2 separate regions of the Homo sapiens genome follow, and region 2 is linked to region 1. A link means that fine-mapping ties the variant in region 1 to the expression of a gene that starts in the linked region. Tissue or cell type: whole blood. Region 1 holds a variant in brackets; the other region holds the start of a gene. All regions are shown on one strand. Distances are between the middles of the regions.

What was found. PIP is the estimated chance that this variant, and not a neighbour inherited with it, causes the effect.
Region 2: MTARC1 starts here. The variant in region 1 is fine-mapped to the expression of MTARC1 in whole blood (TOPMed, PIP above 0.99).

The regions. Positions count from the first base shown.
Region 1 is chr1:220,606,626-220,614,281 of GRCh38, forward strand. The region is part of intron 6 of MARK1 (microtubule affinity regulating kinase 1); the gene reads left to right. Among named protein-coding and RNA genes, the nearest start is that of C1orf115, 80 kb to the right of the region's middle. The variant G/A (reference allele first, on the strand shown) is at 4,400.
Region 2 is chr1:220,785,367-220,791,194 of GRCh38, forward strand. MTARC1 (mitochondrial amidoxime reducing component 1) reads left to right here and starts at 1,547. Exons shown (of 7, transcript NM_022746.4): 1 at 1,547-1,853. The coding sequence starts at 1,579.

The DNA.
Region 1 (7,656 bases):
CTAGATTTTCTTCTAGGGCTTTTATGGTTTTAGGTCTAGCATTTAAGTCTTTAATCCATCTTCAATTTTTGTGTAAGGTGTAAGGAAGGGATCCAGTTTCAGCTTTCTACATATGGCTAGCCAGTTTTCCCAGCACCATTTATTAAATAGGGAATCCTTTCCCCATTTCTTGTTTTTGTCAGGTTTGTCAAAGATCAGATGGTTGTAGATGTGCGGCATTATTTCTGAGGCCTCTGTTCTGTTCCATTGGTCTGTATTTCTGTTTTGGTACCAGTACCATGCTCTTTCAGTTACTGTAGCCTTGTAGTATAGTCTGAAATCAGGTAGCATGATGCCTCCAGGTTTGTTCTTTTTGCTTAGGATTGTCTTCACAATGCAGGCTCTTTTTTGGTTCCATATGAATTTTAAAGTAGTTTTTTCAAATTCTGTGAAGAAAGTTATTGGTAGCTTGATGGGGATGGCATTGAATCTATAAATTACCTTGGGTAGCATAGCCATTTTCACAATATTGATTCTTCCTATCCGTGAGCATGGAATATTCTTCCATTTGTTTGTGTCCTCTTTTATTTCGTTGAGCAGTGGTTTGTTGTTCTCCTTGAAGAGGTCCTTCACGTCCCTTGTAAGTTGGATTCCTAGGTATTTTATTCTCTTTGTAGCAATTGTGAATGAGAGTTCATTCATGATTTGGCTCTCTGTTTGTCTGTTATTGGTGTATAGGAATGCTTGTGATTTTTTGCACATTCATTTTGTATCCTGATACTTTGCTGAAGTTGCTTATCAGCTTAAGGAGATTTTGGGCTGAGATGATGGGATTTTCTAAATTTACAATCATGTCATCTGCAAACAGGGACCTCTTGACTTCCTCATTTCCTAATTGAACACCCTTTATTTTTTTTTCTTGCCTGATTGCCCTGGCCAGAACTTCCAACACTATGTTGAATAGGAGTGGTGAGAGGACATCCCTGTCGTGTGCCGGTTTTCAAAGGGAATGCTTCCAGTTTTTGCCCATTGAGTATGGGGAATGCTTCCAGTTTTTGCCCATTCAGTATGATGATATTGGCTGTGGGTTTGTCATAAATAGCTCTTATTATTTTGAGATACGTTCCATCAATACCTGGTTTATCGAGAGTTTTTAGCATGAAGGGCTGTTGAATTTTGTCAAAGGCCTTTTCTGCATCTATTGAGATAATCGTGGTTTTCATTGTTTGTTGTTTATGTGATGGATTACGTTTATTGATTTGCGTATATTGAACTGGCCTTGCATCCCAGGGATGAAGCTGACTGCATTGTGGTGGATAAGCCTTTTGATGTGCTGCTGGATTTGGTTTGCCAGTATTTTATTGAGGATTTTTGCATTGATGTTCTTCAGGGATATTGGTCTAAAATTCTCTTTGTTTGTTGTGTCTCTGCCAGGCTTTGGTATCAGGATGATGTTGGCCTCATAAAATGAGTTAGGGAGGATTCCCTCTTTTTCTATTGATTGGAATAGTTTCAGAAGGAATGGTACCAGCTCCTCTTTGTACCTCTGGTAGAATTTGGCTGTTAATCCATCTGGTCCCGGACTTTTTTTGGTTGCTAGGCTATTAATTATTGCCTCAATTTCAGAGCCTGTTATTGGTCTATTCAGAGATTCAACGTACTCCTCGTTTAGTCTTGGAAGAGTGTATGTGTCCAGGAATTTATCCATTTCTTCTAGATTTTCTGGTTTATTTGCATAGAGGTGTTTATAGTATTCTCTGATGGTAGTTTGCATTTCTGTGGGATCAATGGTGATATCCCCTTTATCATTTTTTATGGCATCTATTTGATTCTTCTCTCTTTTCTTCTTTATTAGTCTTGCTACTGGTCTATCAATTTTGTTGATCTTTTCAAAAAACCAGCTCCTGGATTCATTGATTTTTTTGAAGGGTTTTTTTATGTCTCAATCTCCTTCAATCCTGCTCTGATCTTAGTTATTTCTTGCCTTCTGCTAGCTTTTGAAAGTGTTTCCTCTTGCTTCTCTAGTTCTTTTAATTGTGAGGTTAGGGTGTCGATTTTAGATCTTTCATGCTTTCTCTTGTGGGCATTTAGTGCTACACATTCCCTCTACACACTGCTTTAAATGTGTCCCAGAGATTCTGGTATGTTGTGTCTTTGTTCTCATTGGTTTCAAAGAACATCTTTATTTCTGCCTTCATTTTGTTATTCACCCAATAGTCATTCAGGAGCAGGTTGTTCAGTTCCCATGTAGTTGTGCGGTTTTGAGTGAGTTTCTTAATCCTGAGTTCTAATTTGATTGCACTGTGGTCTGAGAGACAGTTTGTTGTGATTTCTGTTCTTTTACATTTGCTGAGGAGTGCTTTACTTCCAAGTATGTGGACGGTTTTGGAATAAGTGCAAAGTGATGCTGAGAAGAATGTATATTCTGTTGATTTGGGGTGGAGAGTTCTGTAGATGTCTGTTAGGTCTGCTTGATGCAGAGCTGAGTTCAAGTCCTGGATATCCTTGTTAACCTGTCTCATTGATCTGTCTAATATTGACAGTGGGGTGTTAAAGTCTCCCATTATTATTGTGTGGGAGTCTTAAGTCTCTTTGTAGGTCTGTAAGGACTTGCTTTATGAATCTGGGTGCTCCTGTATTGGATGAATATATATTTAGGATAGTTAGCTCTTCTTGTTGAATTGATCCCTTTACCATTATGTAATGGCCTTCTTTGTCTCTTTTGATCTTTGTCAGTTTAAAGTTTGTTTTATCAGAGACTAGGATTGCAACCCCTGCTTTTTTTTGTTTTCCATTTGCTTGGTAGATCTTCCTCCATCCCTTTATTTTGAGCCTATGTGTGTCTCTGCACATGAGATGGGTCTCCTGAATACAGCACACTGATGGGTCTTGACTCTTTATCCAATTTGCCACTCTGTGTCTTTTAATTGGGGCATTTAGCCCATTTACATTTCAGGTTAATATTGTTAGGTGTGAATTTGCTCCTGTCATTACAACGTTTGCTGGTTATTTTGCCCAATAATTGATGCAGTTTCTTCATAGCATCGATGGTCTTTACAATGTGGCATGTTTTTGTAGTGGCTGGTACCAGTTGTTTCTTTCCATGTTTACTGCTTCCTTCAGGAGCTATTGTAAGGCAGGCCTGGTGGTGACAAAATCTCTCAGCATTTGCTTGTCTGTAAAGGATTTTATTTCTCCTTCACTTATGAAGCTTAGTTTGGCTGAATATGAAATTCTGGGTTGAAAATTCTTTAAGAATGTTGAATATTGGCCCCCACTTTCTTCTAGCTTGTAAGGTTTGTGCCAAGAGATCCTCTGTTAGTCTGATGGGCTTCCCTTTGTAGGTAACTCAACCTTTCTCTCTGGCTCCCCTTAACACTTTTTCCTTCATTTCAACCTTGGTGAATCTGACAATTATGTGTCTTGGGGTTGTTCTTCTCAAGGAGTATCTTTGGATGTTCTCTGTATTTCCTGAATTTGAATGTTGGCCTGCCTTGCTAGGTTGGGGAAGTTCTCCTGGATAATATCCTAAAGAGTGTTTTCCAACTTGGTTCCATTCTCCCTGTCACTTTCAGGTACACCAGTGAAATGTAGATTTGGTGTTTTCACACAGTCCCGTATTTCTTGGAGGCTTTGTTCATTTCTTTCTACTCTTTTTTCTCTAACCTTATCTTCTCGCTTTATTTCACTAATTTGATCTTCAGTCACTGATAGCCTTTCTTCCACTTGATCGAATCGGCTATTGAAGCTTGTGCTTGCATCACGAAGTTCTCGCACCATGGTTTTCAGCTCCATCAGGTCATTTAAGGTCTTCTCTACACTGTTTATTCTACTTAGCCATTCGTCTAATCTTTTTTCAGGGTTTTTAGCTTCCTTGTGATGGGTTCAAACATCCTCCTTTAGTTTGGAGAAGTTTGTTATTACAGACCTTCTGAAGCCTACTTCTGTCAACTTGTCAAAGTCGTTCTCCGTCCAGCTTTGTTCTGTTGCTGGCAAGGAGCTGCGATCCTTTGGAGGAGAAGAGGTGTTCTGATTTTTAGAATTTTCAGCTTTTCCGCTCTGGTTTCTCCCCATCTTTGTGGTTTTATCTACCTTTGGTCTTTGATGTTGGTGACCTACAGATGGGGGTTTTTATGTAGATGACCTTTTGGTTGATGTTGATGCTATTCCTTTCTGTTTGTTAGTTTTCCTTCTAACAGTCAGGTTCCTCAGCTGCAGGTCTGTTGGAGTTTGCTGGAGTTCCACTCCAGACCCTGTTTGCCTGGGTATCACCAGTGGAGGCTGCAGAACAGCAAATATTACAGAACAGAGAATATTGCTGCCTGATCTTTCCTCTGGAAGCTTCGTCCCAGAGGGGCAGCCACCTATATGAGGTGTCTGTCAGCCCCTACTGGGAGGTGTCTCCCAGTTAGGCTACATG[G/A]GGGTCACGGACCCACTTGAGGAGGCAGTCTGTCCATTTTCAGAGCTCAAACACCATGCTGGGAGAACCACTGCTCTCTTCGGAGCTGTCAGACAGGGACATTTAAGTCTGCAGAAGTTGCCTGCTGCCTTTTGTTCAACCATGCCCTGCCCACAGAGATGGAGTCTAGAGGCAGTAGGCCTAGTTGGGCTGCGGTGGGCTCCACCCAGTTCAAGCTTCCTGGCTGCTTTGTTTACCTACTCAAGCCTCAGCATTGGCAAATTCCCCTCCCCCAGCCAGGCTGCTGCCTCGCAGATCAATCTCAGACTGTTGTGCTAGCGGTGAGCAAGGCTCCGTGGGCGTAGGACCCGCCAAGCCAGGCACGGGAGAGAATCACCTTGTCTGCTGGTTGCTAAGACCTTGGGAAAAGCGTAGTATTTGGGTGGGGAGTGTCCCGTTTTTCCAGGTAGTCTGTCACGGCTTCCTTTGGCTAGGAAAGGGAAATACCCCAACCCCTCGTGCCTCCCTGCCCTGCTTCAGCTCGCCCTCCGTGGGCTGCACCCACTGTCCAGCCAGTCCCAGTGAGATGAACCAGGTACCTCAGTTGGAAATATAGAAATCACCTGTCTTCTGGGATGATCATGCTGGGAGCTGCAGACCAGAGGTCTTCCTGTTCGGCCTTCTTGGAATGTCCCTCGACATGTATTTATTTTATTTATTTATTTTTTATTTTTATTTTATTTTTTTGAGACAGAGTCTTGCTCTGTCACCCAGGCTAGAGTGCAGTGGCGCTATCTTGTCTCGCTGCAACCTCCGCCTCCTGGGTTCAAGCGATTCTCCTACCTCAGCCTCCCAAGTAGCTGGGATTACAGGCACACACCACCACGCCCAGCTAATTTTTGTATTTTTAGTAGAGATGGGGTTTCAGCATGTTGGCCAAGCTGGTCTTGAACTCCTGACCTCAGGTGATCTGCCCACATCGGCCTCCCAAAGTGCTGGGATTATAGGCGTGAGCCACTGTGCCCAGCCACACACATCGTTTTAAGTATTATTCATTTAATATCAGTCACAGTAGCTTTTGTTAGTAGCAGACCAGCAAGAAAGTTCCAATTTGCGTTAAATATTCCCATTAGAATCCTAATGTATATTTTAAAGATTATTGCTACTTATTTTTTAAGGCAGCTAGTTTTACTTATTTTTTGATAGATGTAGAAAATTGTACTGGGTACTATATGGAATTAGAGAAGTTGGAAATGCCTGCTATTTTAAAGAGCTTTCCATCTTTGCTGGTGAGCGAGAGCAGGATAAGAGGTTGGGACATAGGTATTTTAATAGAGATACAAATAATTACTAAAATTGGCTTGGTTTTTTAAATAAAGTCTGTAATATTTTGAAATCATCTTCATATTCTTTACATTGCAGAGACTGAGTGCCAAATGAATGCTATATAAATTGTAAAACAATGGCAAATATTTTCTTTATAATGTATTTATTTACTATAAATTTTAAATGTATTTAGTATCTATATATGTTTTCCCAAAACTAAAAAAGTTACTAACTCACATTTTTACAAACCAGAGATATGTAAACATACATACACACATGCACACACATACATTATTTTGTAGTTACCTGACTACAGATAAATTTATACTTAAATTTATTTTTGAGGAGCTTACTTTTATTTATGGATTTGATTTAAACTCTTATGGACTTAATGAATATACATTTACTTTTATTTGCTTTTTTATTTTAACAGTGAAAGAATGTATGTATTAATACTGTGTCAACAATAATAAATGTATATACATCCTTGACCTTACTCTTAGAAATACCAAAGACACTTGGGCAGTTTAAGACCACTGAGCAGCCATTGCCCATACAATGCTTTTACATCCCTTAAGACTTGAGCCTACAGAAAAAAAAAAGTCGTAATATTGATTCAATTCTTGCAATATCAAGTCTACCACTTATAAGTATTAACAATTGCAAAGTAACCGTGATAACTCCACCTCAATGGAAAACACTGATGTGTGTGGTCTTACCGTCAGTACCCAGCTGACAGTAAATCATGTTTTCAGGATCCATTAATAGAAGGCTCATAGGGAAGTTCCGATATCCTATTTATGGAAGTACAGAATGGTTTGAGATGGGAAGGTCTAGCTGTAAAATAATGCAGTAAAAATTGGGCTTGTGGAGGGGGATTCTTGCATTGAGTCAGAAGGCAGAACTTCTTTCATGGCAGAAATTGTTCCCTGCTAAGCAAATGTGGTAATACTATAATAAACTACCACATTTGACTGATAGCTCAGAGTTCATAGAATTTGGGGAGAACACATGCTTAATGCAGAGGATTCTTTGTAATTATCTTTGCATTCTTGATGCTTTGAGGCTCAGGAAATGTTTGATTCCAGAAGTACTTATAGAACTGTTTTCATAGAGACCATTCTGTCTGACATGAGTTGCATGGCCTCTGATCATGTTTGGTAACCAAATTATTATCTGTTGCATACCTTCAGTGGCTCATACAAACATGTGACTAACAAAAGATAATGTAATTATCAGCAAATTTCTGGCACTCATGATACGAAATAATCTTATAATATGAACATACTATAACCTATATAGTATGTCTAATAAAATATACATATAAATGTATGTATCTTTTGGCTAATGAACATAATTCAGTGAAAATTGGGTATTAGAATTTTGAAGCATATTGCTTAAGAAAACTAATACTACAAATTTTCATCATTAGAACCTTCTGTATTTTGGGGAATCATACTTCAAATTGATTATAATCATTCCCAGTCACCCTGCCCAAGAACATCTAGTGGTTCTGCAGTACCTGCCTAGTTTTGAATTCATGACTTTGACCAACCTATTTGTCAAGATTTGACTCCCACTGTCACCATTTTTCCACCTCCTTTTCTTTAAATGATTTTTGGTTTGGTTTGGTTTTGTGGGGTTTATTTTGTTTGTTTGGTCGGTTGGTCTGTTTGTTTGTTTGTTTGTTGTTTTTGAGACAGAGTCTCACTCTGTTATCCAGGTTGGTGTGCAGTGGTGTGAACATGGCATACTGCAACCTCGACCTCCTAGGCTCAAGAAATCCTCCTGCCTCAGCCTCCCGTGTAGCTGGGACCACAGGTGCACACCACCACACCTAGCTAATATTTTTATTTTTTGTAGAGACGGGGTCTCACTGTGTTGCCAAGGCCTGGTCTTGAACTTCTGGCCTCAAGCGATCATCCTCCCACTTCAGCTTCCCAAAGTGCCGA
Region 2 (5,828 bases), 180 kb after region 1:
TGACCTGGGGTTGGAAGAGAAGAGAATAGAGCAGAAAAACAGGACAGATAAGTGTTCAGGCCAATAAAGACAGAGCCTCCCTGAGCACTGAACTGCTCTGCAGTGAGTTGCCAGCTGGAGGAAGAGTGTTGTTCTTTTCTCTTGGCGAACTCCCGCTTCTCATCCATGCACCCTTGCCCTGCATGGGCAATTCTGGCTGAGTCTTGCAATGTACACTCCTGGCTCAGGGGACCATGGCTGAGCTGGGGATAACACAGACTCTCCTTGACCAAACTTCGGACTCTCCTGTGCCCTTTTCTTCATGAGGCCTTGACCTTGCCACCCTACTCCCTGCAGAGCCCAGTTTAGCAAGAATCCTGCTTAGTCAGTTTCCAGAGTATTCTCCCATCCTTAATATCTGATCACCCTTGATGTCTGCTCAGATTCCTCATATGTCACCCTCAGTGTGTAAGTCCTTGCCTTGTTCAGTAGAATCCTGTTAAGTGGGTTTATCAAGAATCCTCTACACTTGATGTCTCCGCTTAGTGATTTTCCATTCACTGACCCCGAGGAACTTCGCTCCTTGGCTATGAATCCTGAGCTGTCTTTGCTGTAATACAGAGTTGAGCCTAATCTCTTTCCCCTATTGTGATGCCCCTGTTACAGTAGCCTTGAATAGTCTTCCTTACCTTTTTAACAAGCGTCTGAGGGAATTTTTTTCCTTTAATAGCTTGGTACATCAAGCAGGAGCCTGACTCCTAAACCACGCTGTTCGGGGTATGCTAACATTGTTGTCTGGAATATAACCTGATTTGGAAGTGACAAGTGACTGAGGTGAGTGCCTGCAGGACCAAGTGACTTTCCCTCCCGCCGGAAGCAGCCCGGGGACCTTGTGCAGCGTTAAACTGAGCCAAGGCCCTTGCCAATGCAGCTCCAGCTCGAGGCTCCCCGCCGGTAGGAGTCGAGCGTCCCCGAGCCGTGTAGAAGGCACTCTCAGACGCCCATTGCCGCTCCCAGGGGCCGCCGGGAGAACTCTGGCCTTGGCTCGCCGGCGCGGAGGGCCTGGTAGCATCCTCCTTCATCAGACCCCCACTCTCTGGAAGCTCCTAGCCCCTGGGCAGACTGAGGGGAGGGCGGCGGCAGCAGAGAGCTGGACACTGCACAGGCCAGGCAGGGCCTACCAGCTCTCCACTATTCCCAGGAGAGGCTGCTGCCAGCTGTCTGATTTCTAATTTCAAAATCACGCTTTGTCCTGCAAATGTTGTATATTGTTTATTTTAGGTCAAATAACCCCATAAATACGTAAGTAAATAAATTGGTCACTTGCAGCGATCGTGGGGTGGGGGAGGGCACAGCGCCCTGCAGCGCAGGCGACGGAAGGTTGCAGAGGCAGTGGGGCGCCGACCAAGTGGAAGCTGAGCCACCACCTCCCACTCCCCGCGCCGCCCCCCAGAAGGACGCACTGCTCTGATTGGCCCGGAAGGGTTCAGGAGCTGCCCAGCCTTTGGGCTCGGGGCCAAAGGCCGCACCTTCCCCCAGCGGCCCCGGGCGACCAGCGCGCTCCGGCCTTGCCGCCGCCACCTCGCGGAGAAGCCAGCCATGGGCGCCGCCGGCTCCTCCGCGCTGGCGCGCTTTGTCCTCCTCGCGCAATCCCGGCCCGGGTGGCTCGGGGTTGCCGCGCTGGGCCTGACCGCGGTGGCGCTGGGGGCTGTCGCCTGGCGCCGCGCATGGCCCACGCGGCGCCGGCGGCTGCTGCAGCAGGTGGGCACAGTGGCGCAGCTCTGGATCTACCCTGTGAAATCCTGCAAGGGGGTGCCGGTGAGCGAGGCGGAGTGCACGGCCATGGGGCTGCGCAGCGGCAACCTGCGGGACAGGTACGGCCAAGCGCCGGCGCGGGGCAGCGCTGATCCGGCTCGGGGCAAGGGGGTGAGAAGGGAGGAGCGCAGGGGAGGTCTGCAGAGTCTGCTAACAGGTCCTTCCTCCTATTACAAAGAAACTGGGAGTTGGGTGAGACAAGGCCAAAGAGAAAAAGGAACCCTCACCCCCCAGCATCAGACCCCAGGGCTCTGGGACTCTGAGCGCGTGGACCCGTTTTCCCGGGGTGGGCGGATCTCCACCTCCCACTGGCTCTTTGGCGTCATGTGCTCCTGCTGAGGTGTGGTATCGCTCCCAGGTGTCTGCCAGTGAGCAAACTTCTTAATCTCCATTTAGTGGAGGCGGCTAGCTTGAAGAGGTTGGTTCCCAGTCGCTATTTTGAGTGACTTTCTTGAGATCTTGGAGAAAGCTGAACTGTAGAGTCCAGCCCTCCAAGAGCGCACCAAGGCGGAGCTCATAATAGTAATGACAGCAGTTCAACGAATACCTTCGGGCGCGGTGGCTCACGCTTGTAATCCCAGCACTTTGGGAGGCCGAGGCGGGTGCATTACCTGAGGTCAGGAGTTCGAGACCAGCCTGACCAACATGGTGAAACCGCGTCTCTACTAAAAACAAACAAACAAACAAAAAAACAAAAATTAGCCGGGCGTAGTGGCGCGCACCTGTAATCCCAGCTACTCAGGAGGCTGAGGCAGGAGAATAGCTTGAACCCGGGAGGTGGAAGTTGCAGTGAGCCAGGATTGCGCCACTGCACTCCAGCCTGGGCAACAGAGCGAGACTCCGAATCAAAAAAAGAAAGAAAGAAAGAAAGAGTTGTGGGGGCATTGCAGATGCTATTTTCCCCAATTCTCTCCAATGCTCTCAAGCACTCTTGTGGATAAAGAAGTTGAATTCAGAGCCACACAGCAGCAGAACCAGGACTCTTATTTTCTTTAGCACACTGGGGCTTTGTAAAGAGTGACTTTGTTAATGTCCTGTCTGGGTTCTGAGAGCTGCGTGGATTCCTGGGGTTCAGCGAAGGCTGCAAAACCCGGGAGCCGGCAGCTTTGTCCTCTTTAGGGTCTGGCTTCAGGCCAGCCTCGGGTCTTATTGTGAGGCTGCACTTGAAACTCCTTTCCAGAGCAGCCCTCGCAGTTCAGCAAGTAACACAGGACTAATGGGAGCTGTAACCTTTCTCCTACCAGCTCCCCAGACAGAGGGCAATTCATGACATAGTTGAAAGGTGAGTGACGTATGCATCTTTGCTTCAGGAAGGAAGCCAAGAATCCTAAATATTCCATGTTTTGGGCCAGGCGCGGTGGCTCACTTCTGTAATCCCAGCACTTTGGGAGGCCGAGGCGGGTGGATCACAAGGTCAGGAGATTGAGACCATCCTGGCTAACAGGGTGAAACCCCTTCTCTACTAAAAAATACAAAAAATTAGCCGGGCTTGGTGGTGGGCGCCTGTAGTCCCAGCTACTCGGGAGACTGAGGCAGGAGAATGGCGTGAACCCGGGAGGCGGAGCTTGCAGAGCTCCACTGTGGCAGAGATCTCGCCACTGCACTCCAGTCTGAGCGACAGAGTGAGACTAAGTCTCAAAAAAAAAAAAAATCCATGTTTCGTATAGTAGGCTCTGAAAAGTGGTAGAGTTTTTGTAGGCCCCAGAGGCAAAGGGCACTGGAATTTTACTACTTAGATTCAAAAAGCAGTTTTTGAGCTCATATTACAATAGATGACAAGAAGAGCTGGCCTTTGTACCAGACACTATGATAAATTCTTTATTTTCGTTCATCACACACTCCCAGAAAGTGTGATCAAAAGAAGCCAACACTGGCTTACAGTCCTAGGTTGTGACTAGACTAAACAGAGGTTGTGACACGTGCCAGGGTGCCAGCATAGAGGATGCGACACGTGCCAGGGTGCCAGCATAGAGGATGCAGTGCTGGAAGCTGGCTGGGGCCGTCAGGGACAACATCAGAGAGAAAGTAACAGCTTGAGCTGAAAACTGGAAAACGATTCAGAACTTGCTGGGCAAGTAAATTGGGAGAAGAACTTTCTAGAGAGGGAATAAGCTGGGCAAAGACACTCGGCTTGTGAGGATGGGGTATGCTAGGGGAAAGGCTGGCATAGTCAATGCCAGAGGGGTCCAATCTTTTGGCTTCCCTGGGCCACATTGGAAGAAGAATTGTCTTGGGCCACACATAAAATACACTAACACTAACAACAGCTGATGAGCAAAAACAAAAACAAAAACAAAAAAAATCTCATAATGTTTTAAGAAAGTTTATGAATTTGTGTTGGGCCTCATTCAAAGCTGTCCTGGGCCACGGGTTGGACAAGCTTACTCTAAGGTATTTACCAAAAGGAACTGGGACATAAATAGGATGAATGTTCTTTGCAGCATTGAGTGTTGAATGTTCATTATGATGTTATTCACAGTAGCCAAAAGGTGGAAACAACTAAGTGTCCATTGATGGATGAGTAGATAAGCAAAATGTGGTATATACACACAATGGAATATTATTCAGCCATGAAAAGGAATGAAGTTCTGATATGTGCTACAACATGGATGGCCCTGGAAAACATAATACTAATTGAAATAAGCTAGACACAAAAGGACAAATATTGCATAATTCCAATTATATGAAATGTCTAGTGGATAAATTTATAGAGACAAAGTGGATTAGATGTTACTGGGGGCTGGGGGAAGGGGAAAACGAGGAGTTATTGCTTAATTGGTACAGAGTTTCTGTTTGGGGTGATGAAAAGGTTTTGCAAATAGTGGTGATGGTTGCACAACACTGTGAATGTACTTTACTGCCACTGAATTGCACACTTCAAAATGGTTAAAATCACATTTAAAAAATTCCATTCTCTGTTGATGGACACTCGGGCTGTTACTACTTTTTCAGCATTTTGATTAAAGCTGCAATAAACATTGATACACAAATGTCTGTTTGAGTTCCTGTTTTCAGTTCTTTGGGGTCTATACGTAGGAGTGTGCTAGGTATTTTATGTTTTATATATATTTTACTGCAATTAAAAAATAAATATATAAAAGACTGGCCTGTGTGAAGACCTCGGGAGGTAAGAATGGCTGGAGCAACAGCTGGATCATGAAGGGCTGGGCACGCCCTTGTTTAGGAGTTGGTTTTATCCTGAAAGCAGGAACCATGGAGGGATTTTGAATGAGGGGGTCATAAAGTTAGATTTGCATTTTAGAGCGATGTAAACTGCCATTACCAGGAAGAATATTAGACAGAATATTCACCTGCTAGTCCCAAGGATTTGGGTCAGGGCAGGCCTCTGTCTGTGCAGAAACAAAGTCTGGTAAAAGGGCAGTTACGGAAAGGGCTTATACTAAGCATATTTTTCTAGTGTAGCTGAACAACTCAACCATGATAACCTGCTGGAAGTGATGCAAGAAATATCTTGAACGACCTAAAGTACCGGCCATATTTTTTTCTTATGTCTGGAAATCTCAAAAGCACATGCTCACTTCTATAATTGTAATCATTTGATCAGTGTGTACTGTAAGGATTGAAATGCCAATATGTTTTGCTTCCTTGGTAGCTGAGAGATAACCTGCAAAAACATGTTGTTCTTGTTCTGGAAATGGCTCTTTCTATTACCTTTATTTCTCCATTTATCTTTTTTTCTAGGAAGTACCTGTAGACCAGGAATACTGGGCCAGAAGAAAAAAATACTGTCTAGTTTAGCAAATTGCAGAATGGACAGCACTGAATGTTGGAACATAAAATTTTTAAAAGGTGGGGGGCTGGAACTGGCAGAGTATAAGTGGCACTGTGTGTTGCTCAGCTGAACTCCATGCCCTGTGAACAATATAAGCAACAGTCCTGCTATTTCCACTGACAAGAGCCCGTTGCCTACCAGATGCCAGGCCCTGTGCTTCCTCCTGCCTTTGAGGTCTTCATGTAAAATAGATTCTTGTCATCTGCTTGGGGCATGTTTAATGAAAGTGATCAGGCTTTCT